Linked DNA regions of Homo sapiens. The protein of the gene in region 1 purifies or fractionates together with the protein of each later gene. This does not show direct contact. Each region holds a gene or a part of one and is shown in the gene's direction. Other genes may lie near its edges.

The links.
Region 2: the proteins of SLC6A1 (region 1) and TM9SF3 purify together in Homo sapiens (affinity purification with mass spectrometry, with the first as the bait; one large-scale study listed by BioGRID). This does not show direct contact.
Region 3: the proteins of SLC6A1 (region 1) and RFT1 purify together in Homo sapiens (affinity purification with mass spectrometry, with the first as the bait; one large-scale study listed by BioGRID). This does not show direct contact.
Region 4: the proteins of SLC6A1 (region 1) and ADCY6 purify together in Homo sapiens (affinity purification with mass spectrometry; one large-scale study listed by BioGRID and IntAct). This does not show direct contact.
Region 5: the proteins of SLC6A1 (region 1) and KDSR purify together in Homo sapiens (affinity purification with mass spectrometry; one large-scale study listed by BioGRID and IntAct). This does not show direct contact.
Region 6: the proteins of SLC6A1 (region 1) and ABCB1 purify together in Homo sapiens (affinity purification with mass spectrometry; one large-scale study listed by BioGRID and IntAct). This does not show direct contact.
Region 7: the proteins of SLC6A1 (region 1) and DHCR24 purify together in Homo sapiens (affinity purification with mass spectrometry, with the first as the bait; one large-scale study listed by BioGRID). This does not show direct contact.

Annotation. Positions count from the first base shown.
Region 1 is NC_000003.12:11,030,748-11,034,247, forward strand, and holds part of SLC6A1 (sodium- and chloride-dependent GABA transporter 1), read left to right. Parts: intron 1-429; coding exon 430-532; intron 533-2,891; coding exon 2,892-2,992; intron 2,993-3,500. UniProt on the Homo sapiens protein: Mediates transport of gamma-aminobutyric acid (GABA) together with sodium and chloride and is responsible for the reuptake of GABA from the synapse. The translocation of GABA, however, may also occur in the reverse direction leading to the release of GABA.
Region 2 is NC_000010.11:96,549,013-96,552,512, reverse strand, and holds part of TM9SF3 (transmembrane 9 superfamily member 3 precursor), read left to right. Parts: intron 1-1,101; coding exon 1,102-1,268; intron 1,269-3,500.
Region 3 is NC_000003.12:53,123,936-53,127,435, reverse strand, and holds part of RFT1 (man(5)GlcNAc(2)-PP-dolichol translocation protein RFT1), read left to right. Parts: intron 1-1,441; coding exon 1,442-1,527; intron 1,528-3,500.
Region 4 is NC_000012.12:48,786,290-48,790,345, reverse strand, and holds the start of ADCY6 (adenylate cyclase type 6), read left to right. Parts: upstream 1-1,256; 5' UTR 1,257-1,440; intron 1,441-1,489; exon of another isoform or gene 1,490-4,056. UniProt on the Homo sapiens protein: Catalyzes the formation of the signaling molecule cAMP downstream of G protein-coupled receptors. Functions in signaling cascades downstream of beta-adrenergic receptors in the heart and in vascular smooth muscle cells.
Region 5 is NC_000018.10:63,332,707-63,336,206, reverse strand, and holds part of KDSR (3-ketodihydrosphingosine reductase), read left to right. Parts: intron 1-848; coding exon 849-950; intron 951-3,500.
Region 6 is NC_000007.14:87,513,885-87,517,384, reverse strand, and holds part of ABCB1 (ATP-dependent translocase ABCB1), read left to right. Parts: intron 1-719; coding exon 720-876; intron 877-1,956; coding exon 1,957-2,154; intron 2,155-3,500. UniProt on the Homo sapiens protein: Translocates drugs and phospholipids across the membrane. Catalyzes the flop of phospholipids from the cytoplasmic to the exoplasmic leaflet of the apical membrane.
Region 7 is NC_000001.11:54,863,196-54,866,695, reverse strand, and holds part of DHCR24 (delta(24)-sterol reductase precursor), read left to right. Parts: intron 1-1,249; coding exon 1,250-1,393; intron 1,394-3,500. UniProt on the Homo sapiens protein: Catalyzes the reduction of the delta-24 double bond of sterol intermediates during cholesterol biosynthesis.

The DNA of each region.
Region 1 (3,500 bases):
ATTTGGGTGGGATGGGATGGGATGGGATGGGATGGGATGGGATTGGATGGCATGGGATTGGATTAGATCTCTCTCTGCTTATTTATGTGTTATATTATTGTCTCATTTAAGTCCTGAAAGGTTTTAAGCAGGGGAGAGACCTGACTGATTTACACTGTAAAAAGATGGCCCTGGTGACCAACTCCGCTTTCTGCCCTCCAACCTTACCAGAAATTGGCATTTTCCTCTACCACCTGGACATTTCCTTCCCAATGCCCGGACTGTCAATGTCCACATCCTCTCGTGGTCACAAAGCCCTCAGTGCTTCATCTAATCTACCCTGAAGCCTAATCCCAGCCCCATCAGCCTCCAGAGTCCATGTGGTCTGTGAACTGGATGCAGTGGGCGCCGGGGACAATGCACCTGTTCTCACCTCTTTTCATCTTGCAGGGGGGTATTTATGTCTTCAAACTCTTTGACTACTACTCTGCCAGTGGCATGAGCCTGCTGTTCCTCGTGTTCTTTGAATGTGTCTCTATTTCCTGGTTTTACGGTGAGTATCAGCCCCTCATCCCTTATTCATTCACTCATTCATCCATTCATTCCTTTCTTGAGTCATCATTCAACAAGTGCAATTTGAACCCCAGGTCTTCTCCTTACATTTATTTATTTATTTATTCTTCACATTACAATTCAATGAGGTTAGTCCAGGAGTCCCCCATGTTTAGAAGATATAAGAGCAGTTAAATGAATTCATTTAAAATAAGTGGAGATTTTATCCAGAAAAGGGAAACCAAAACTACTTTTTAAAGTTTTAAAGTTATATATTTAACACAGTCTAGGCTGTAATTAAAAGTGTGCACTATCTTAAAACAAATAACAAAAGAAACATTGATTTTGTTTATTTTGTGGCCTAAGTTTCTTGAGCCAACTGCATGATAGTAAAAAATGACAACATCCTTTCCTGCACCTTTGATTGTCCCATCAGAGCAAATGTTTTTAAAGAAGCATGATATTTTGTGTCCCCCTTTGCAATATCTGCCACCTCATCCTCCTTGTCATTGTCCCTTCTTTTTTGTTTGTTTTATATGTATAAATTTAAGGGACATGAGTGCAATTTTGTTACCTGGATATCTTGTGTAGTGGTGAAGTCTGGGCTTTTAGTGTACCCATCACCACATAATGTACATTCTTTTTTTATTTTTATTTTTATTTATTTTATTTTATTCATTTTTTTGATGGAGTCTTGCTCTGTCACCAGGCTGGAGTGCAGCGGTGCAAACTCAGCTCACTGCAACCTCTGCCTGCCTGGTTCAAGCAATTCCCCTACCTCAGCCTCCCAAGTAGCTGGGATTACAGGCATGTGCCACCACGCCCAGCTAATTTTTTGTATTTTAGTAGAGGCAGGGTTTCACCATGTTGGCCAAGATGGTCTCGACCTCCTGACCTCATGATCCGCCCACCTCGGCCTCCCAAAGTGCTGGGATTACAGGCATAAGCCACCAAGCCCAGCAGTACATTCTACCCACTAAGTAATTTCTCATCATCCACCCCAGCTCCCATTCCCCCACCCTTCTGAGTCTCCAGTGTCTATTATTCCACCTGTGCCCAGTGTTTAGCTCCTACCTTTAAGTGAGAACATGCAGTATTTGACTTCCTGTTTCTGAGTTGTTTTGCTTAAGATGATGGCCTCCAGTTCCATCCACGTTGCTGCAATAGGCATGACTTCATTCTATTTTATGGCTGAATAGTATTCCATCGTGTATGTATACCATATTTCCTTTATCCAGCCATCCACGGATGGACACTTAGGTTGATTCCCTATCTTTGCTATTGTGAATAAACACGAGTGCAAATATCTTTTTGATATAATAATTTCTTTTCCTTTGGATAGATAGCCAGTAGTGGGATTGCTGGATCAAATGGTGGTTCTATTTCTGATTCTTTGAGAAATCTCTGTACTGGTTTCCATAGAGGTTGCACTAATTTACACTCCCAATAACACCTTCTCTCTCTAACTGTTCCAACACGGTCAGATCCTCACTGGTCAGTGACTCTGCTTATAATTTGAGCAGTGCCCGAAGCCGCTCTGGTGAACTTCAAGACACCAGTTTGGGGTTTGGGGTTTTTCTTTTTCATGAGATTTGCAGTTCTTTGCAATTGATTGTCAATTTCTTTTTCTTTCATTCATTCATTTATTTATTTATTTATTTATTTATTTATTTATTTTTGAGACGAAGTCTCGCTCTTGTTCCCCAGGCTGGAGTACAATGGCACGATCTCGGCTCACTGCAACCTCCACCTCCCAGGTTCAAGCAGTTCTCCTGCCTCAGCCTCCCAAGTAGCTGGGATTACAGGCGCCCGCCACCACACCTGGCTAATGTTTATATTTTTAGTAGAGACGGAGTTTCACCGTGTTGGCCAGGCTGGTCTCGAACTCCTGACCTCAGGTGATCCTCCCACCTCGGCCTCCCAAAGTGCTGGGATTACAGGCATGGGCCACCGTGTCCGGCAGATTGCCAGTTTCTTATAGCATCTGACCATCAGGGAGAAACAGCCCCTGCCCAGGAAAGCCTTTGAAGGAATGGCTGGGATAGATGTCGAGTGGGAGGGACATTGAGAGTGGCAGGGGTGGAGGGGATCATCATGTCAGTCTCCTTTTGTTGGTAGATATCTTCACATTAAAGTGACTTGCTCACCTACACAACCCACTTGCTGTGAGAATTGGGCTATTGAAAAATACTTGGTAACGAGGACCCCCAGAGCATAACCCCCATGGTACAGACAAGGAAACTGAGACTCAGAGAGGTTAGGTGACTTGCCCATGGTCACACTGTGAGAAAGTGGTAGAACCAGGCTTTGACCCTGAAGCACCCACAGCTCATCCATCCCTCCTGCTCCCAATGTCACAGGTGTCAACCGATTCTATGACAATATCCAAGAGATGGTTGGATCCAGGCCCTGCATCTGGTGGAAACTCTGCTGGTCTTTCTTCACACCAATCATTGTGGCGGTAAGAACAAGGCCTGACTAGCCCTGTTAGGATGAGGCTAGACCAAGCCCTGGGGGGACTCAGGTCCAGGGAGAAACTTCTAGAGGCAGAGGCAGGTGGGAGAGGCCCCCAGAAACCCTGTTCCTTAATAATACTTCTCTCTACCATTTGTTGGGCATCTATTCTGCACCCTGCATGGTACAAGACACATTATATCATCCTCCACAAACCTCAGAAAGGAGGCATTATTGTCCCACTTTACCGCTGCAGGATCTGGGGCTCACCTAGCCAGCATCACCCAGCTAGTCAGCACTGGGATTCGAACCAAGCCCAGTCTCTTGGCACTTGGAGACTCTCCTTCTCAGGGTCCCTCATCCCCACAAGCAGGAGCTGAAGCAGGGGCGGGCCTGGGAGGGGCCACCCAAGGTTCTTGAGGTGGGGGCAGAGCCACTGCATATGTTGTGTCCACATAAGGGGACCCTGCCAATGGCACATTGGGAGCTGATATCTCACCCTTGCTCTGCTTTTG
Region 2 (3,500 bases), on another chromosome or scaffold:
AAGTGTGTTACATAGAGTGCTAGCTAATGGATATTCGGTATAGGTATACTGTATCATTAAATAAATTTAGGAAATTTGTTTTAAGAGACAGGCTGGAGTGTAGTGGTGCGATCATAGCTCACTGTAACTTCAAACTCAAGAGCTCAAGTGATCGTGCCACCTCAGCCTCCTGAGTAGCTAGGAATACAGGAACAAGCCCCCACCCCTGGCTATTTTTTTATTTATTGTAGAGATAATTTCACTATGCTGCCCAGGCTGGTCTTGAGCTCCTGGCCTCAAACGATCTTCCTGCCTTGGCCTCCCAAAGTGCTGTTATTATAGGTGTGAGCCACCGTGCCTGGCTTGGGAAATAGTTTCAAATTTTAAATTTTAATATACTAGGGTATATTGTGAAGTATCAGAGGGTGGATAAAGCATTTGGTACCTCTTAACTGTATCTGATTAGGATTCTCCCCACCAAAACAGATTACCTTGAGGGACTTCTATTCCTTAGGAAATATTGTTTTAGAAACAAGCTGTGTTAGAAACTGTTTAAGGAGCACTTGCTTACTAAGGTTGCAAAGTAAAAATTGAATTCTTTTTAAAAAAATGCATATAGACTGTTAAATAAAAACATTCATATTGAATATTTCCCCCATATGTTTTCTTAGATTCTAGGCGCTAAAGGACATTTCTGCATTCTTAGGGGATCTAGTACTGGTTTTGATACTCTTCTCTTTCATTTCTCCACCTAGCCCCTGATTGTATATGAGCTACAGCTATGATGTGAATAGCAAGAATAGTGTCTGAAAGTGGCATTAAGAGAGTCAGTGCACTGTTCTCCCAATTTGACCATTTCTTTTTGTTACTAAACCTTTTCTTTTTCCGTTATTTGAGATTCTCTGAGCACAACCAGAAGTCAACTTCCTGAACCTCAGCATTTTAACATTGTTATTAAGGCAGTGATCATTCTAAGTTTGGAATATACTTTCTCAATATTTTGTATTTCTTTAGCTATAAATTTGGAGGGAGGAAACTTACAACTGTAATTTTTACATACTATGTTTTAGTTTGATTCTGAATGATTTGCTTTTCTCTCTCTATATATATATTTGTATATAGGATAGAGACCTAGGAGATGAATATGGATGGAAACAGGTGCATGGAGATGTATTTAGACCATCAAGTCACCCACTGATATTTTCCTCTCTGATTGGTTCTGGATGTCAGATATTTGCTGTGTCTCTCATCGTTATTATTGTTGCAATGATAGAAGATTTATATACTGAGTAAGTGCCTACACTTAACTGTATTATGTCTTTATTGTTCTTAAATAGTTTTAATCACTGGAATCTTTTAAGTCAATCATAATTAAATCGTTACTTATTTCCTTTATCTTACAGTTTATGATAAATATCATAAATGCAGACAGACAAATTAAATAATGAACAGTAATCTGTATTTTTCTGTTACATGCCAAAACTTAGTAGCATTACTGAACATTGTGGTTAGTTATAAAGGTTATATGTTCCATTAAAGATATGAACAGAGGTTACTTTCAATCCAGAGCTGTTTGACAAAGTAAATAGCCTTTTTTTTCCTAAAGTTGAAGATCCAATTAGAGCTTCATCAGAAGTTCAAGAATTTCAGTTACTAAGTTACTTCATATTTACCTTCAGATCTGGAAAACATCAGAGTAGAAGAAAACATTGTAAATAATAGTAAAAAGAGTGATGAAATAGTCACATAAGGTTAGAAAAATAATTGATGACTTCTTTGAAAAAAAAACTCCTAGGTCAGTATGCATCCTATCTTGACACAAGTTTTGTAATTCTTTCTTTGCAAACAAAACCATTTGTAAGAAATTCTTAATTTGAGGTCTTTGAATTATGTGAAAAAGTTACACATTCACAGAAGATCTCAGGTCCCTATTCAGTGCTCAAGAAAGCCACAACCTCTGTGAAGCAAACACACTCTGGTGCCTGGGTGGTAGCGATTATAATTCAGGCATTTCAGGTGCGGCCATATGAAGTCCTCCTTCAGAATGACACTTTTCTCTAGTTATATTTCATGCCTCTGTTTTAGTTCATAATGCACTCTTTCCTCTATATGCCTGGCGTTTGATGGGCAAGCAATACATCCTTGCTGAAAGAATGGCTCTTTAGTTGCATATTAAATATTTAACTGTATACTAAATATTTGTTTCCTCTGCTAGATAGTAAGTTCCTTGAGAGTAAGGATCAGGTCATAACTTACCTTTGAATTCTCAAAGTACCTACATAAGGAGCTTTGCATGTGGAAGGTATTCAGTCAATGCTTGTTGAACTGAAGTGAATATGTATTAACCAACAAAGCTATTTCTCTGTAGCATTGGTTGTATTTCTTTAATATAACCTTTCTAATTCATTTACCGCATGAGCTTTAAAATAACCCAAATCTAAACTTCAGAGTTCTGGCGAGTAGTTCATATTTTCGGGCATAATGTATTTCAGATAAGCTGGACCCTAAATATAAGAAAACATTTCACATCTACCAAGAAGTTGTGCTTTACATTAAACACTGGATTAAGTTAATCACTATCGAATTGACACTAGCTGTACTGTCACAGTCTTAAGAGCCACTAGAAGATAATCTCTTCTAGAATCCAAGTTTTTGCTGCTTCCTTTTCAAAATGTTAGTGTTACAATTCGGCAGCTCTTTTTTTTTTTTTTTTTTTAAAATGCAGAAGCTCTTCTACTTAAAGACCTTCAACTTTTATAAATAAGAAACCACTCACTAATGTATAATATTAGCAGGCAAGTCATGCATTGTTATTTTAGCCTATAATTACTGTAAGTGGTTTTTCTGTGTTGTGTTTATTTGAAGTGAATGTAATTCATTACTTATGTAAGTACTAAAGCATTAAGGATTTATTATTATATAAAAGTGGCCAACTTATTGAGATTTCACTTTAGGTGTTTCATGCACATTTGATCCCTTAATCTTCACATCAACCCTATGAAGGAAATATTCTATTTCCATTCTACAGACCAGGACACTAAAGCTCAGAGAAATAATCTGACTGAGATCAATGAGCACCCTTTACTAGTAAAGAGTGTTAGTGAGCTGGGATTGGAACCTAGGCAATCTTATTCCAGAACTCTTTTCTTAATTTGCTATGTTACGGAAATGAAAATAGAGAAAATAATAATACAAAGTGGTGAGAAAATGAAAAATTTGCACACAAAATTGGGATAAGTCACTTGAATAGGAATGATTCTAAAGGATAAAGAGCAGATAATGTAAAGTAAAAATTACTTTGCCTCTGTGGTCACTATAGCAATCAGAGGAAAAGTATTTTGAGGGTATAAGGTAGAGGATCAGTATCAGTGTGGGTGCCTGTTATAGTGTGATATTGAGAAGGCATAGAGTTTGAGAAGGTGAGGAGTAAGCTTGTTAGTGCTGCTGCTGCTACTCTGAAAGTTTTCACTGGAGAGTGGTAAGGCTGTGGCAGGTGTAGGCTAAATACCTCTTCAGATGTT
Region 3 (3,500 bases), about 42 Mb from region 1:
GCCACTGCGCCCAGCTAAGTATTGGGATTACAGGCATGAGCCACTGTACCCAGCCCTACAATCTCTTTTGATCCTTTTAATCAACCCTATGTGATAGGTAAACTCATTTGACCGAGGAAATTGAGGCTTATAACAATTAGAAGATAACAGATAGAAGAGCTAAATGGTGAATTGTATTTTTAGTAGAGACGGCATTTCACCATGTTAGTCAGGCAGGTCTCGAACTCCTGACCTCAGTTGATCCACCCGCCTCGGCCTCCCAAAGTGCTGGGATTACAGGCATGAGCCACCATGCCCAGCCATATCTGCATGTTTCTAAGGAGCAGCTACAGAGCTGTCATCAGACTCAAAAGACCACCTTTGACTCCATAACGGTTAAGATGGTGATTTCTTGGCTTTGGAGACCTTGCTGCTCTGTGATACTTTAGGTACAGTGTTACACAATGTCCCTTTTTGGTCATAGCTGTCCCCAGAGATTTTCAGACCACAGTAGTCCATTGATATGCTTAGATCAAATCTTCCAAATTGCAACTCTTCACAGATAACTCTGAGGGTGCTTGACACAGAAGTGATTTTCATTTGCTGCTGGGATGCAGAAGGGAGTCATTCAGTGAATGAGGTTTGCACTCTTCCCAGCATCCCCATTTAGCAACCCTGTTTAATTACAGTCTTCTTGTTCTCTGTGTCTCATGGGAGAAGTTCTTTGCTTAGATGGTTTTCTTGAATTGACAGATTGGAAAGTCTCAGGAAATGTCCCTTTCAAGCGGCAATAATTGGACACTCTCTCCCTTCCCCCCATGTTACATTACGTTATCTTATTTTTGCAGCATCATTTAAAAGGTATTTCAACTTCTCCCTGGAAAGAGACAAGTATTCAATAAAGAAATACATTTTCTATGTTCTAATTGAGAAAACTGAAGTTCAGAACGATATAAATGTCATTATTGAAATTCCTAGATATTATGAGGCAGAGGAGAAAAGAGAAATTAGTCCCCATGATTTCTGGTGAGTCTGCTATACCCTTAAGGCTCCCACTTGCTAAGCGTATGCTATTTCTAAACAGGCTGGGGTGGGGGAGTGTGGCCAGGGCCCGGCAAGGTGAACCACTAACTAGAATTCTCTTTCTGCTTCCTCAAGGGCTTGACTTTGTAGAAACTCAGTGAGTCTATTGGGGCCTCTTGGTTGTTATTAATAAATTAGGGAGCCTTCCAAGTGCCTTCCTGGGTTCTTTGACTACTGCACGGGAGTGCTGAGAGATCCCATGGAATGAAATTTCAGGAGAAATGCAGACAGGTTGGGCGTCTTAGAGGAGAGTCTCCATGAAAAAGCTGCTGTATGTCATTACATCACATTAGGAAGAACAGCCACATTGTTCTCATTTCAGCTAAGTAAACACTTCTAACGTCATTTATTCTTACGTATTTTTCCTCTTTTTCTATAGGTGTTGTTTCGGTTGATCACCTTTGTCTTGAATGCATTTATTCTTCGCTTCCTGTCAAAGGAAATCGTTGGCGTAGTAAATGTAAGGTAGGAGGAGATGCACCCTGGCACTGTCAGAGTTCACCTTCCTAGCCAGGCTTTCTTCAAACTCTGTACCTGTTTGTCATCCTTGGATTCTAGAAGCATGGACCTTTATCAGAAGCAGAATGTCTTAGCAGTAGGCTGAGGAGAAGCGTGCAGGAGTGGAGGGACGCGCAGGCGATGTTGCTTTTAATGGACTCATGGAGTGTTTTCCATTAGCAGCCTCCAAATGCACATTTCTTTGCCAGCTGTTCTGGTTTTCCTGCTCTTGGAAGTCAGGAAGGAGAAGAGTGGGAGTAATTCATTAAAAACTCTCTCTCAGATATAATCCTATGTTCTTGTCCTGCTGACAGCAAAGGAAACAGAAATTCAGTAGTTTGTGAGGATGCGCTTCATAATGGCAGGGCTGGAGCAGCCACCTTCCTTCCCTCCTCAGTGATTTTATAATTGGGATATGGCAACTGGGATTCGAGCTTGAGTCTTTGTCATCAGTTTCTTGGAGGCTCTTGGAAAGATGACTTCTTTGTCTTTTAGACTCAGCTTGTTTCTTCTACTCGCCTCCTTTCTGTTCAAGGACACCCACGCATATTTTGTCTTCACAAATGACACAAAGTATATGAAATGATGTGAGTGCTCAGAATAGCTCAGCTTCTCAGGTGTGTCTTCATGTCCTGATAAATAAGACAATATGTTCCAGACAGCATTTCATGTCTAATACTTACCAAACATATACTCTTGGCTCTGGTCTCAGAGCTTAGTGGCAGGACTCAAGCTTTGAGCAAAGGAATCATCTGTGGAGTTTTGCACTACATAGTGCTGAACAGGGGCCCAGGAATCTGAATTTTTATAAGCTCCTTAGGTGATTTTGAAACAGGGACCATTCTTTGAGAAATATGTTTTCTTTTCCTCTTCTTCACCTTCTTCTTCTTTTTCTTTTTTTGAGACGACAGGCTTTTGCCCTATCACCCAGGCTGGTGTTCAGTGGCGCCATCATGGCTCACTGCAGCCTTGACCTCTTGGGCTCAAGCGATGCTCCCGTATGAGCCTCCTGAGCAGCTGGGCCTACAGGTGTGCACCGCCACACCTGAATAATTTTTTTATTTTTTGTAGAGATGAGGTCTTACTGTGTTGCCCAGGCTGGTCTCGAACTCCTGGGCTCAAGTGATCCTCCCATCTTAGTCTCCCAAAGTGCTGGGATTGTAGGCATGAGCCTGAGAAATATAGGCACTTGGCCCTAAGAAATACTGTTTTAAAAGCAGGAAGGAAGAGGGGCAAATCCTCCTAGGGGCTCAGATTTTTCTCCCCAGGCAGCCTTCCTGAGATTGGCAGGTCCTGCTTTGACAGCCCTTGTCTGGCCTGCCCTGCTCCCCTGCTTAAGGTTTGGTTCCATCTCCTTATTTGCAGTGTTCCACAGAGGCACTGGGTAGCAGGATAATCCTTGGACAACCCCAGAGACCTTAACCCTGGGCTGTCCCTACTCTGGCTTCACCCAGACGGCTGTCTATTGAGGAGGGGAGATCTCAGCTACTCCTCGCTAAGATGCAGGAAGGCTCACCCAGGTGCTGCCCACCTGGGAGGTACCCAGGCACGCCTTGCTGATCTGGGTTGCAGCAGCCTCTGTAATGGTTGCCAGCCTTGTTGCCTGTCTTGAGATTCTTTTGGCCAGAGCCTCCACTCGGTAGAGGCTCAGCTTTTCTCACAGGGGCCATCGGTCACTCGTGTCAGTGTGACCAAGAAGGGTGGGGTTATAATCTTATCTTCTTCTCCTCCTTATGGTCATGGCCACACCTCTGCCTGTAGCCATGAAGGCTGAAGCCTTTTGAGGCCACTGCAGCAGTTTCTATCCTTCACGTAACTGTAGGCACACACCCTCAGGTGTCTTTCATTTGGTTCCTAACTCATTAGTTCTCATGGATCAGACCGGTAGGGGGTCCTGTAAGAGCCCACTGCCTTCCACATCACCACCAGTGGTTTATGAC
Region 4 (4,056 bases), on another chromosome or scaffold:
TCTTGAAGGACAGGACTGCAGGGAGGGCTGGTCCTGAGGAGGAAGCATCTTCAGATACCTAGGTCTTGGGATCTTGGGTGGGGAATAGGCTGCTTGGGGAAGGGCTGAATTGGAAGGAGGAGCTAGAGGTCTGACTGAGGGAATGGAGAGGGGGCCTCAAAAGGAAGCCAGGCAGGCTGCCTTCTTCCCAGCTCCAGAATGGCACCCCCTCTAAAGTCACACTCACCTACGTACATCCTGGAGTGAAACTCCTTCTCCTTTCTGCTTCCACCATTACTCTAATCCTCAAAGGGTTAACCAGCTTTCACACGATTTTCCCATCTCCCAGGTAACTTGGGCAGCTGCTCCGTGCTGGAAATAACTAAAGACCCAGTTTCTCAGTTCGTGCACTTAGCAATGCACCCCAGTAGCCCCTCCAACCCCCAGCAGAGAAGCACAGCCCTTTGGGTAAAAGATGCCTGGGGGTGAGGCTGCAAGTTGGCAGGTGCGGGGGAGGGGCTCCCAGAGAGTAGGGCGGGGGGTTGTGGGGGCGGCAGGGAGAGTGCCCCTTCCCTGGGTCCCTCCACTGGGCCCCGAGGTTCGCCTCGGGGCCGCTGCCCCAGAGACTGGGGGGAAGAGGAAAGAAGTGGTGTGCGGGCAAGCAGGCCGCACACACCTGGCGCCTTGTGGAATGAGAGCTTAATTAATTATTAAACTGAGTTCCCGCGGGAGGGCGCAGGGCCGTGACAGGCAGGGCGGGAATGGCTAGGTGGGGGCTGGGGCTGGGGCAGGGGCAGGGAGGAATTGGGGATGAAGAGTGGGCGCGGGGCGCCGGCCCAACCCCTGGGACCCTGACAGGAAGGAAGGCGACCCTCGGTGGGCGGGGCGGGGGATGTAGCCGTGAGGGGTGGGTTTGCGGGCGCGCTCGGGGACCCCCGGGGTGAGGGCGGGAGAGGAATGCCGGAGGAGGCGGCCGGGGTGAAGGGAAGGGGACCGGGCTGCGAGGTCCCCTCCCCGCGGGGTCTTGATCCCAGAACAGTAGCTGCTTGTCTTCCCAGGACTGGGGGAGGAAGCGGCCGGAGGAGAGGAGGGGGCGCGCGGAGGGAGGGGTCCCATTATTTGGCCTCCTCCGCCCCTACCCCGCTGCTAGGAAGGGGAGTGGGCAACTCGGCCCCCACTTCTGGGGAGGGGGAGGGGGATGCCCAGACAAAAGGAGCTTGTGCCTTTAAGGCGGGGAGTCCGGGAGCCAGCGGGGAGGGGACTTCTGGATCCGGGGTAGAGGGCGGCTGCGCTGGACAGCTCGGGAGGGGGCGAGGGCCGGGCGGACGGCGGACGGCGGACGGCGGGCGGGACGGCCAGGACGCGCGGGCTCGGAGGACCGCGGGACGGCCGGCCGGCCGGCCGGAGCCCGCGGGGGCGGCGGGGCGGGGGCCCAGGGCAGGCGCGGAGCCGGGCCGGCAGGTGAGCGCGCTGAGGGCTAGGGGAAGTGGCCGCTCGGGCTCCCGGTGCGCCAGGATTGGAACGCACCCGAGCGGCTCTCGACAAGAGTTTGTGGGTGGGGGCGCCGAAGCCTTGGACGGGTCGTCTCGGCAGTGTTGCCCGAGGGAGTTGGGGTTGGCAAAGGGAAGTCATGGAGGCAGTGGGATCGAGGACTCCTAGGTCCGGCGCTCGCCACCCCCGTCGCCCGCCGCCTGCCTCCCTCCACGGGGCGAGTTCCAGGCTGGCCCGGAGGCCAGGAGGATCTGGCACGTACTGGGGGAGGGGCTGGCCTGAGTTTTTTGCTGCGGGGCTGTGGGGTGTCTCCGAGTTTGGGGGAGATTCCATTTAGGGGAGAGGAACCGGCCTGGGCAGAGGGAGGGATGCCCTCTGTCTGCGGGAGTCCCTCTCCTTCCCCTCACCCAAAACCTTGGGAATGAAAGGGGTGGGGTCGGCTCCCCACATCCCCCAAGGCCTGCCGCAGGGTGGGCAGGGGAGCTGACTTTATTCAAAGCAGACTCTGGGGCTCGACTGAAAGGCTAGAGGTGGAATCAGGCGTGGGAGCCTCTTTGCCCATATCCTCTCCTTACCAGATTACCCCTGTGAGCTGGAGGGACCTGGTGGGGGTTGCATAGTAAAGGGTGATGTGGGAGCCCTCTGTAATCTTTAGGGAGAGTGAGGACTGGGGATGGGAGAAGGCGGCAGCGGGCACTGGACCGACAGATACAGGCCCTGGGTAGGCTCCTCTACATCTGGAAAGGCCCAGAATTGAAGAATTGAGGCCCATGTCCGAGTATGGTGGGTGGTGCTGGCACTGCTGGGCCCCGCCTGGGCAGTGCCTCTTACCATGAACTTTCTGAAGTCGTTTTTAATCCCCTGGAGCCTCCTTTTGCCAAGGAGGGCAGGGGCAGATGGGCCCTGGGGATGGGATAGACAGGAGGTGGCCAGGAAGGCTTGGCAAGGCAGTGGGCAGAGCCATCCTTAGGGCTGGGCCTTGGCCTTGGCTGGTTCCAAACTCTGGTCTCAGCCTGATCAGGGTTTGGGAGGGACTTGAGGTCTGGGAGGCACTGAGCCTGGGCCTGCCAGGCTGAATGGGACATGGCTGTGGCTGTGGGAGCCGGTGGTATGAAGAACAGCAGATCTGTGAGAGTGCAAATGGACCAACACTCAGGGGAGGAGAAGGTAGAGGCACAAGGCTTAGGAGCCTGACTCTGGGGAGGAGGGAGGTGGTCTGTGCTCCCAGGGCTCATAGTGATGGGTTGCTGGACAAAGTGGGTTGGGGGACCATATAGAGAAATTTTGTGGCTTGGAACAGTGCTCTACCCTGTTTCCTGCCATACCAGTCTGGCATGGGGTGCCAGAAATGTTGGGAGGCCGGCAAGTTCTGCGGGATGGGCAGTGCCTGGAGTGGAGCCCAGGGTGGGATGGTTGCAGTTGGTTGGACAATTACATAGCTCTGAAGCTATCCCCTTGGGGGGGGTCAGAGTGTTCCTGGGAGGGTCATGCATTCTCCTGGATAGCATTTGCCCCTTTCTCTGTGAGTATGAGCCAGATGCTAGGATGTGTTTCCAGGGGGCTTGGAACATGGCCAGAAACTAGTCCTTTGGGAACAGGTCCGGGCCAGTGCTGGTGGGGGTGGTGTGTTGGGGGAGATAAGAACAGGGAAGGGGACTGGTGAATGGAGGAGGCTGAAGCAAAATGTTGTGGGTGGTGGATGGTGGTGGGAAACCTGCTCACTCTGGGCTCTGTCTCCAGCAGCTCTGGGGACTGACAGCCAAGGACACAGGGACTGATAGAACCAGGCATCTGACTGGCTAGAAAGACGTGTGTTCTTGCTCATGATTTCCTCATCTTTCCATCTCTTGACGATGACAGAGGTTTGGGTTTAAAGTGTTGTAGAGTGAGGAGAAGAACTAATATTTTTCAAGTGTGTACTTCTTGACAGGCATTATTAGATTCTTTCCTGAGGACCATTATCATTTCCATTTTGCAGATGAAGGTACTGACACAGAGAGGTTAAATAACTTGCCCAAGGCAGTGTGGCTAGCAAATAATCACGCTAAGGTTTGGAACCCTGGTCTCATGCCAAAGATCATGCTTCTAATGAAGTATTTTGAAGAGCAAGGCTTTCTTTGGTGACCTTTTCCAAATGCCAGCCTGACCAAAAGTCTTGTATTCCTGATCTGTCCTTCCAGATGGTGCTGTTGGTGATGTTAAGAGGTTGAAGGGGCCAGGCATGGTGGCTCATGCCTATACTCCCAGCACTTTGGGAGGCCGAGACAGGCAGATCACCTGAGGTTAGGAGTTCGAGACCAGCCTGGCCAACATGGTTAAACCCTGTCTGTACTAAAAATACAAAATTTAGCCGGGTGTGGTGGTAGGTGCTTGTAATCTCAGCTATGGGGAAGCCGAGGCAGAATTGCTTGAACCCAGGAGGCAGAGGTTGCAGTGAGCTGAGATTGTGCCACTGCACTCCAGCCTAGGTGGGGCAGAGTGAGACTCCGTCTTAAACCAAAAAACAAAAGGAGGTTGAAGGACGTGCTGCTCTGTGGGATATAGGAGAAGGGGTGCTGACAGATCTTGGCTGAGGGTGACTCAGGG
Region 5 (3,500 bases), on another chromosome or scaffold:
AATACAAAAATTACCCGGGTGTGGTGGTGCATGCCTGTAATCCCAGCTACTTGGGAGTCTGAGGCAGGAGAATCACTTGAACCTGGGAGGCAGAGGTTGCAGTGAGCAGAGATCACACCACTGCATTCCAGCCTGGGCCACAGAGTGAGATTCTGTCGAAAATAAATAAATAAACAATACAAATGATGCTCCATGAAAGAAGTGGCAGTTTAGCCCTTGACTTCAGGAGCTGCACAAGGACTTTTGTTCCAGGCAGTTGTCCCGCCCTGGAATGCAGTGCTGCGGAAGCGCGTTGGGCGCATTCTCATTTGTCACACAGAGTATTAAGAAGACATGTCCTCGAGGGTTGCCATTGAACAAAATGATGAATTTTCCTGCTTTATCAAGAGGATTTTAAAGCAAAACTGACACTTTGATTTTTAAAAGAATTTTAGAACTTGTATTTTCTTTGTGTATTATTTATTACTGCGAGTGCGTGTGGTAGTAGAGGTGACAATGACTCCTAGTACAGTTTGGCAAGAACCCCGTGGTTCTTGCCCATGTCTCTGCAGTTTTGCAGAGGCAAAACTGTATTTTCCATACAACACACTGTGGAAAAGACAATGAATGTCTTAGTGTTATTAGGACAATCATTTGTCCTTGGGGGCCCGCAGGGGTCCGTGGACTCACTTGTTGAGAACTGCCATCTGCCAAGGCCGTGCGTCCATTTCTGAGTGCTGATCAATGCTTTGTGACCATTTTATCTCACTTAAAGTGAACGAGCACACTCCACTGTTTCTGATGTGTCCGACTGATTTCTGTCCACATTACTAGGATTCCCTCTTTCTCTTCTTTTTCTTCTCTTTTAGCAAGGAAATTTCAACAGTTCCCTTGGCTCAGATGGGTACATGCTCTCGGCCCTGACCTGTGGGATGGCTCCAGTAACTTCTATTACTGAGGGGCTCCAGCAGGTAAGCTCTGCCTAGGCTAGCAATCAGACAGGCCGATGGACAAGAGAAAAACTGCCTTTCATCAAACCTTGATGAGAAGAGGTTAAGGGAAAACTAAGTAACTTTATTTGACAATGTATTTTTATGGAGCTATCAACTTTTCCTCTTCCTCCACCAGGAATGAGTAAATAGGTTAAAGATATAACTTCAGGAATTTAGAATGGCAAGAAGTCTTCAGTGCCGGGCCTTGCAGATAGAGAAATAAAACACCGTATCTGCTGTTGAGGTGTTAACCTGGATTTTCACCTAAGAACCACTGCTCCAATGTGTTTTGAAAATGGAATACTCCTCTAGAGTAAGGGGTAGCCTTGCTTAAAAAGTACTGGGATATTAGACTAGAAAACCTTTTCTAGGTGAATCAGGTCACACACAGCTAAATTTAGTGAGACACGAATCATGGATTAAACAGTTGCTTCGCTTATAGAATGTATTATTTTGTCCAAGATACACAGTGTTTCATTGGTGTGCTAGGCACTGTACTTGCTCATGGGGAATCAGATGGAAGGCGACCTCTCCAGCTTCAGGGGCATACAGTCAAGTGGAATGCACTGACCAAAAAGGTGATAGTAGTCCGGGCGCGGTGGCTCACGCCTGTAATCCCAGCACTTTGAGAGGCTGAGGTGGGTAGATCACTTGAGATCAGGAGTTTGAGACCAGCCTGGCCAAGATGGTGAAACTGTTTCTACTAAAAACACAAAAATTAGCTGGGCATGGTGGCGGACGCCTGTAATCCCAGCTACTCGGGAGGTTGAGGTAGGAGAATTACTTGAACCCGGGAGGTGGAGGTTGCAGTGAGCCGAGATCAAGCCACTGCACTCCAGCCTAGGCTACAAGGGCAAAACTCTGTCTCAAAAAAAAAAAAAAAGATAGTAGTGCAGTGTAATGAAGTAGGGGTTACAATAGAGGGAATGCTCTGGAAAGACAAAGCCATGGGATAGTTGTTAACAAGTACTAAATTCTGTGCAGTCAACCACATTCAGACTTATATAAATGACTTAGTTGTTGGTTTTCTTCAGGGTCTTTCCCAAGCCCTCTTTTCTTTTCATTCTGTAATGTACCTACTGTCTTTGCCATTCTCTTAGAGGTTGACACTGTGTTAGATGTAAGCTCTTTGAGGACCAGGCCCACACCTCTTGTTTGCCGTTGTACCCCTAACAGCCAGCGCCTGGCACTTAGTAGGAACTCCAGAATCCCTGAGCTGAACAAATGCATGAATTCTTTTATGTTTTAATTTTTGGGCTGGCATGGTGGCTCACACCTGGCGTGTTGTCCTGGACTCCCCTGCTTCTGTCCCTCACGTCAGAGATCATTGTCATCCTTGTCACTCAGTTCTTCACATTCTTCCATTCTCTGCAATTCTGGCAGTGCTTCTGGAGCCCAGGCCTGGGTTGCCGCAGCAGGCCCCCTGCTTGAGTTACACACTTTTTGAGCCAGAGGTTGTAAACGATTCCCATGGGCCTGTAAAGCAGTTTTGTTGGGTCCATCTGGTGTGAGTGTGTGTGTTTAAGATTTTAAAATAGTTTTAAAATTAGGTTTTATATAAAAGGTCCAGATTTCAGACTTTTCTTGGAAAATCAGAAGGTTTAGCTGCACAGAGTCTGCATTCTTACCTGGCAGTCATCAGCAAGCACAGGTGGCAGCTGCTCCTGAGGGAGGAGCACAGTCCCTGCAACCACTATGGTCTGCAACCCCCTGCTCAGGCCCCCTGGATGCGTTTGAGTGTACCCTCACATTTTCCACACCAGTTGTTTCTAAACTGCAACTATACATTGCATGAAAACATTCAATGACTCCTTGATACCATCAGGATAAAGCTTTAAAAATTCCATTGCACCTGAGTATGGTGGCTCATGCCTATAATCTCAGCACTTTGGGAGGCCAAGTCAGGAGGATCGCTTGAGCTCAGGAGTTTGAGATCAGCCTGGGCAACATAGTGAGACCCTGTCTCTACAAAAAAATGTAAAAGAAAAGAAAGCCAGGCGTGGTGGTGTGTACCTGTATTCCTAGCAACTGGGAGACTTCTGCTTGAGTCCAGAAGTCTGAAGCTACAGTGAGCTGTGATCATACTCCTGCACTCCAGCCTGGGTGACAGAGCAAGACCCTGTCTCTAAAAAGGATTTAAAAATTAAAAAAATTTCCATCGCATGCCATAAACCACCTGATCTCCTACCCCACGTACCTTTCCAGGCTCTTTTTTTTCTTTCTTTCTTTACCCATCTTCTTCTTTTTGGAATCTTCTCTGTGTCCTGCCAACTTCTAATCCTTCAGGTCTCACCTTAAATATTGTTTTTTCCGGAAGATCCAAGGACTGGCTTCAGTGCTCTGAGGGTGTAGGGAAAAAAACAAAGGGATTTTTCTATTCTCTTTTTTTTTTTTTTTTTTTTTTGAGACGGAGTCTTGCTCTGTCACCCAGGCTGAAGTGCAGTGGCACGATCTCAGCTCACTGCACGCTCTGCCTCCTGGGTTCACACCATTCTCCTGCCTCAGCCTCCCCAGCAGCTTGGACTACAG
Region 6 (3,500 bases), on another chromosome or scaffold:
TTCTGAGAGAGAGAGAGAGAAAGAGAGAGAGAACACATGCATGCATGCTCACAAAGCATATAAGGCCCCCTGAGTCATAGGCTTGGAACTGGCAAAAGTGATTTCCACCATATCCTGTTGGCCAAAGCAAGTCACAAGGCCAGCCCAGATTCAAAGGGTGCTGCAAAGGTCACAGTGCAAGAAGATGAGGATACAGAGAGAGGTATACAGAGGGAAAAAAATGGGCCATTTTGCAATCAATCTATCACATAGACATGAACTTATAAGGAAATGTGTTTGTTTTATTTTTAACATCTGTTTTATAACTATTAGAGGCAAAGCTCTCTGGTTATAGAAGTGTCAACTTTTGGCCAGGCATGGTGGCTCACACCTATAATCCCGGCACTTTTGGAGGCTGAAGCAGGAGGTTCACTTCAGCCCGGTAGTTCGAGACCAGCCTGGGCAATATAGGGAGACCCCCATCTCTACAAAAAATAAAACAATTAGCTGGTGTGGTCATGCACAGTTGTAGTCCCAGCTACTACAGAGGCTGAGGTGGGAAGATCGCTTAAGCCCTGGAGATCATATCTTTAGTGAGCTCTGATTGCACTACTGCACTCCAGCCTGGGCAACACAGGAAGACCCCACCTCAAAAAAAAAAAAAAAAAAAAAAAGGAGTGTCAGCTTTCTAGCATTGTGATGGTAATGCTGTGCACATGTTTTGTGTTTGTGCTTTCCAGAGTATTTTCAGCTGTTGTCTTTGGTGCCATGGCCGTGGGGCAAGTCAGTTCATTTGCTCCTGACTATGCCAAAGCCAAAATATCAGCAGCCCACATCATCATGATCATTGAAAAAACCCCTTTGATTGACAGCTACAGCACGGAAGGCCTAATGCCGGTGAGTTTGATGTTTCAACTGTTTGATCTACTCCTGACTCCTGAATGAAAGTATTTTAAGTGGAAACTTAATAAAATTTGTACTTTCAAATATGCTGATGATAAAATAAAACTTCCTAGATCATAGATTCCTTTCAATTACTGCTAATAATATACATCAACATTCAGTACTTTTACGTAGCAAAGGTTATAGGGAAATAGGAATACTGCTCACTTTATAAGCAAAACCTATTAATCAGATTTTTTAAAAACAATTTTTTTTTAGAGACAGAGTCTTACTCTGTCATCCAGGCTGGAGTGCAGCAGTATGATCATAGCTCACTGCAGCCTTGATCTTCTGGGCTCAAGCGATCCTCCTGCCTCAGCCTCCCAAGTAACTGGGACTACAAGCGTGTGCCATCATGCCCAGCTAATTTTTTAATTATTTGTAGAGACAGGGTCTCGTTATGTTGCCCAGGCTGGTTATCAGATTTTATTGTATGTAAGTTACTGTATTCCTGAGGAACAGATTTGAGTTATTGTAGCTGTATTGCATATTCATATTGTCTTAACAATACATGCTATGAAAGCTTTTACTCTTTTAGATCTCATTTATTAAATTCTAGCAGTCTGAGGTCAAGCACAGTGGCTCATGCCTGTAATCCCAGCACTTTGGGAGGCCAAGGTGGGTGGATCACGTGAGGTCAGGAGTTCGAGACCAGCTTGGCCAATATGGTGAAACTCCATCTCAAATAAAAATAAAAAAAAAAAGATTAGCTGGGTGTGGTGGCACACGCCTGTAATCCCAGCTACTTGGGAGGCTGAGGTACGAGAATTGCTTGAACCTGGGGGGTGGAGGTTGCAGTGAGCTGAGATCATGCCACTGCACTCCAGCCTGGGTGACAGAGTGAGACTCTGTCTCAAAAAAATAAAAAATAAATAAATAATAAAATTAAAATAAAATAAATTCTAGCAGTTTGAAGTGAAGCCAATTGTAACACAAATTAATTATCTTCTGACACCTGGTAATCGAGAGAGTTAGCTATACACTTTATTTTCAGTATTGCAGCATTCAAATTTACTGTTATTCTTCTCATTGCAGAACACATTGGAAGGAAATGTCACATTTGGTGAAGTTGTATTCAACTATCCCACCCGACCGGACATCCCAGTGCTTCAGGGACTGAGCCTGGAGGTGAAGAAGGGCCAGACGCTGGCTCTGGTGGGCAGCAGTGGCTGTGGGAAGAGCACAGTGGTCCAGCTCCTGGAGCGGTTCTACGACCCCTTGGCAGGGAAAGTGGTGAGCACACTTTCACATTTAGCTCAGTTCAGGTTTTCATCATCCAAATGTCTGAATGTATTTAATTCTCAACTATAAGCCATGTTTTTTCAAACCTTTAAACAACAGTCCCACTTGGATAAAGTCTGAGAGCCTAAATATGGTCTCCAAGTGGTGTCATCTGTCCCAGCCAACTTCTCCAGGCTCCCCTCAACACTACCCCTCTACCCTCCTTTGCAAGCACCCTTTGTACCACCTGTCTCCCTTGCTGTACTTAGGTTTCAGCTGACTTGAAAAGAACCAACAAAAATGGAAGTAGCCAGAAAGATACAGGACAGGTGCTAGGAGTGAGATGAAAGCCAAGGATGGAGACTGTTTCAAAGATGGTGGTCAGCAATGACAGATGGTATAGAGAGATTGGGTAAGGAGGAGACTGAGAAGACATGATAGAATCTAGCAATGAATGGGCTATTTCTGACATTTTAAAATATTCTTAGTGAAGTAGTGATGGTAGGAAACAGTTAAGGGTGGCTGAAGTATGATTAGGGGAAGAAATGGAGATGTAAGTGAGCATAGATTATCAAGAAGATGGAAAGTAAAAGAAAGGCAAATAAGGACAGCACTTGAGTGGGGAGGCAGAGTCCAGGGAAAATGTTTAGGGGTTGAACTCTTGAGCATTTTTATGACTGGGGATGAGACAAAATCATTGATGGAGAGAGGGCATTGAAACATCATCTGAGGAAAAAAAAGTAGAATCAACAAATTTGGGAAATGTAAAAAGAACATGGAAGTATGCCCTTTTGTCTTAGTTGCTGGGGATGAGGGAAGTGTCTGGCAGGGAGTAGTGAGTTTAAACGACTATGATGGGGGATAGGAAAGAAGACAAACTAGGAAGGAATAGAATTAAGAGCAAGACATTTTCATTATGTAGGCATGTAATTAGTTGTACTGAGAAGTGATATTTAAAATTCTTAACAATGGGAACAGCATGGACACTGACCAATCAGAATGGATGCCTGCTAGTACAAGTCAGATGGATGCCCACCCGCTGTGTATGGACGCTGGTAGCATTTAATGACTCAAATGAAAAGAGAGTTTTCAATCTTTAGTCTAGGACTCTTTTTACTTCCTCACAGCGGTCACTCTTACTCATAAATGTTTGTTATTGTATTCAAAGACAGTTATGCCTTTATTCAGTTTACTCTTAAATCATTACAAGCTTGTTCCCTACTTTTACTCTCTTGCTTTATATTTTCTGTGAACTCTGATTGTGTCCTTCAATTTTGTGGTGAACTTAAAAACAGGACTCTAAATAAAGACGTCGCTGACAGCCAAAGCAATTAGAGGAGGAAATGTTAGCTCTCAGA
Region 7 (3,500 bases), on another chromosome or scaffold:
CGGCAAAGGGTTGCCTGGCTGTAGGGTAGAGCAGGTCAACAAGGGAATGGGTGGGGACTGATACTTCAGCCACCTGTGGACCAGGCACCGTGCTTGGCACTTTCTACATCATCTCTTTTAGTCTTCCAGAAATGCTAAGTAACCTGCCTAGGCTCTGCTAAGTGTGTTGTAAATGGAAAAAGCAAATTGGCAAACAGTACGTGTAAGATGGTCCCATTTTTCAGGAGGCTGAGGCAGGAGAATGGCGTGAACCAGGGAGGTGGAGCTTGCAGTGAGCCAAGATCGTGCCACTGAACTCCAGCCTGGGCGACAGAGCGAGACTCTGTCTCAAAAAAAAAAAAAAGATGGTCCTATTTTTTAAAAACAGTGGGCATATGTATGTAATTTCTAATAGACAAATAACTCCCACAAAGTATGTATTTTTATTGTCATGTTACATGTGAAGAAACAGGCTCAGAGATGACCTGCCTGGGTGTGTCCCCAGCTGCCCACCCTAAAGCTTGTGCTTTTCCAGGATCCCCCCTGCCTCTCCCCGAGAGCATCTGCCAGAATTCATTTATGGATGAGGAAGCTGAGGCCAGGAGAAGCTCAGCCATCCCAAGGCACACAGCACATTGAGTCATGACCATTTAGGGCTGCAGGAGACATCAGCTCAATAGAAGATTTGGGTGTGGGAGCCCCCAGGGCCAGGGAGGTATGAGCCTTATTCATGTGAGCATCCTCCAGACGATGGTGGCTGCCTGGGGAGTGCTGTACCCGGAGGACTGTGGAGCTTGGTCCAGGGACAGCAGGGAAAGTGCCATGACCAGTTGGTGCCATGAGCCCTGGGTTGCACTGAGGGGCTGACCCATTCCCAGAGTTCGTGCTTCCCTGGCCTTGGGGAAGGTGGGAAGGGAGGGAGGGAGGGAATTCCCCTGCATGGGGCACTGCATCAGGGCAGTTAAATGTTTAACTCTGTTAAACACTTGCACCAGGCTAGGCGGGGTCGCTGAGTTCTCTAGACTGTCGGGGACTCACTGTTTGGCCCTGGGCACACACCACTTAACCTCTTTGAGCTCCTGCTCTCTCTGCTAGAGGATACCCGCTGTGCCTAACCTCACCAGCTTTCAAGAGTCTCAAAGGCAGTAATAGACATGAAAGAGCTTTGAAAAGGCCAGGAGTGCTGAACAGAAGCCGGGTGTCGCTGTTACACCCCGATGGTGCTGGGCGCTTGTCTGCAGGCTGATCACAATGCCCTCTGTCATTTCAGCTGAATAGCATTGGCAATTACTACAAGCCGTGGTTCTTTAAGCATGTGGAGAACTATCTGAAGACAAACCGAGAGGGCCTGGAGTACATTCCCTTGAGACACTACTACCACCGCCACACGCGCAGCATCTTCTGGGAGCTCCAGGTGAGGCTTAGGTTTCTGTAGCCCTGGCTCCTCCAGGCCAGCTGGGCAGGGAGCCCGGACAGTTAACACTGTAGCCATACTCTCTCCCTTCAGGGTAAAGAGTGGCTTTGTCCTAAGGAACTGCAATGCCTTCTTAAGCAGCAACACAGTCGTTTCCTTCTGAAGGAACCAACTACCTTCAGTTCAAGCAGCAGGCTCTTAGCAAGCATCTGCTTGGTGCTGGGGAGTAAGCCCCTGGGCCGGTACTTTGGGGAACACAGACCTGTTCCGCCCTTGAGGAAGGGTTAGCCTCTAGCCACGGTGAGCAGACAGATCCCTGCACTGTAAAGGGCCGCAGGAACATTAGTAGGAAGTGGCTAGTTCTGCCTAGGGCTCGAGGTAACAGCCAAGCCTGGCTGTGAAAGGTGAGTGAGAATTTGCTGTTGCATGTGTAGATGGGTGGGTGGATGAGGAGCAGTGACACTTTAAGTGGGGGAAGGTCAGGAAGAACCCCTCAGGAGATGACTTTGTGAGCAGGGACCTGAACATAGGGAAGGCAGACCAGGAACAACTCTGGGGAGGACTCTGGAACTCTGTTCACAGGCAGAGGGACAGCCAGAGCCCAGGGCTTGAGCTGGGCTAACAGGAAATTAAACATTATAAAATGGACAGTTCAGGGTAGTTTAGTACATTCACAGTGTTGTGCAACCACTACCTCTGTGTAGTTCCAAACATTTTCATCTCTGAAAAGGAAACCCTATACCCATTAAGCAGCCACTCCCTATTCTCTCCCCTTTCCCCAGCCTGTGGCAACCACCAATTCATCTTCTGTCTCTGCAGATTTACTTATTCTGGATATTTCACATATATGGAATCATTCAGTATGTGCCTTTTGTGACTGGCTTCTTTTACATAGCATAATGTTTTCATGTATCAATATTTCATTTCTTTTTATGGCGGGATAGTAGTTCATTATATGAGAGACCACATTTTGTTTTGTCACTCATCTGTTGATGGACATGTGGGTTGTTTCAACCTTTTGGCTACTGTGAACAGTGCTGCTACAAACCTTCATGTGCATGTATTTGTTTGAATACTTGTTTTCAGTTCTTTGGGATATAGAACTAGGAGTGGAATTGCTGGGTCATATGCTAATTCTGTGTCTAACTTTCTGAGCAACAACCAAACTCTTTTCCACTGAGGCTGTGCCATTTTTCATTCCCACCAGCAATGTATGAGCGCTCTATTTTTTCAACATTCTCACCAACACTTGTTATTTTCTGGTTTTTAAATTATTAGTATTATTATTATAGCCATTCTGGTGGGTTTATGGTATTGACTTGCATTTTCCTTGAAATTAATGATGCTGAGCATCTTTTTATATGCATGTTAACCGTTTTGTATATCTTCTTTGGTGAAAAGTCTATTTGAATCCTTTGCCACCTTTTAAAATTTGGTCATTTGTCTTTGTTGTTGAGATGTAAGAGTTCTTTGTGTATTCTGGATACTAGACCCTCATCAGATATATGATCTGCAAACATTTTCTCCAATTCTGTAGGTTTCTTTTCATTGTCTTGGTAACGTCCTTTGATGCACAGAAGTTTTTAATTTAGATGAATTCCAATTTATCTATTTTCCCTTTTGTTTGTGCTTTTAGTGCCATATATAAGAATTTATTGTCAAGTCCAAGCCCCTTTGTTTTCTTCAAAGACCTTTATAGTTGCAGCTCTAATCTTTAGGTTGTTGAGTGGGGTAGGAGTCCAGGCTCCATTCTTTTGCTTATAGCTATCCAGGTGTCCCAGCAAGGCTGCATGTGTTTGAAAAACAGCAAGAAGCCTTCGGAGCCAGCATGCCCACGCTGAGCTATGGTGAGGAATGAGGTCAAACAGGCACCAGAGGCTAGATCATATGGCTCCTTGTAGGTTAGGAAGGACTTTATATTTTATTCTAAGTATAATAGGAAGCCAATGAGGGCTTTGAACAGGAAAGTGGCATGGCCTGATTTTTGTTTTAAAAGAATAACTGTGACAGCTGGATAGAGTGGATGGGGACGGGAGTGGACAAGAGTGGAAGAGTAGAAGAAAGAAGATACTGTTGTCTGGGCAGCAGCAGAGGAGAAGTGTCAAAT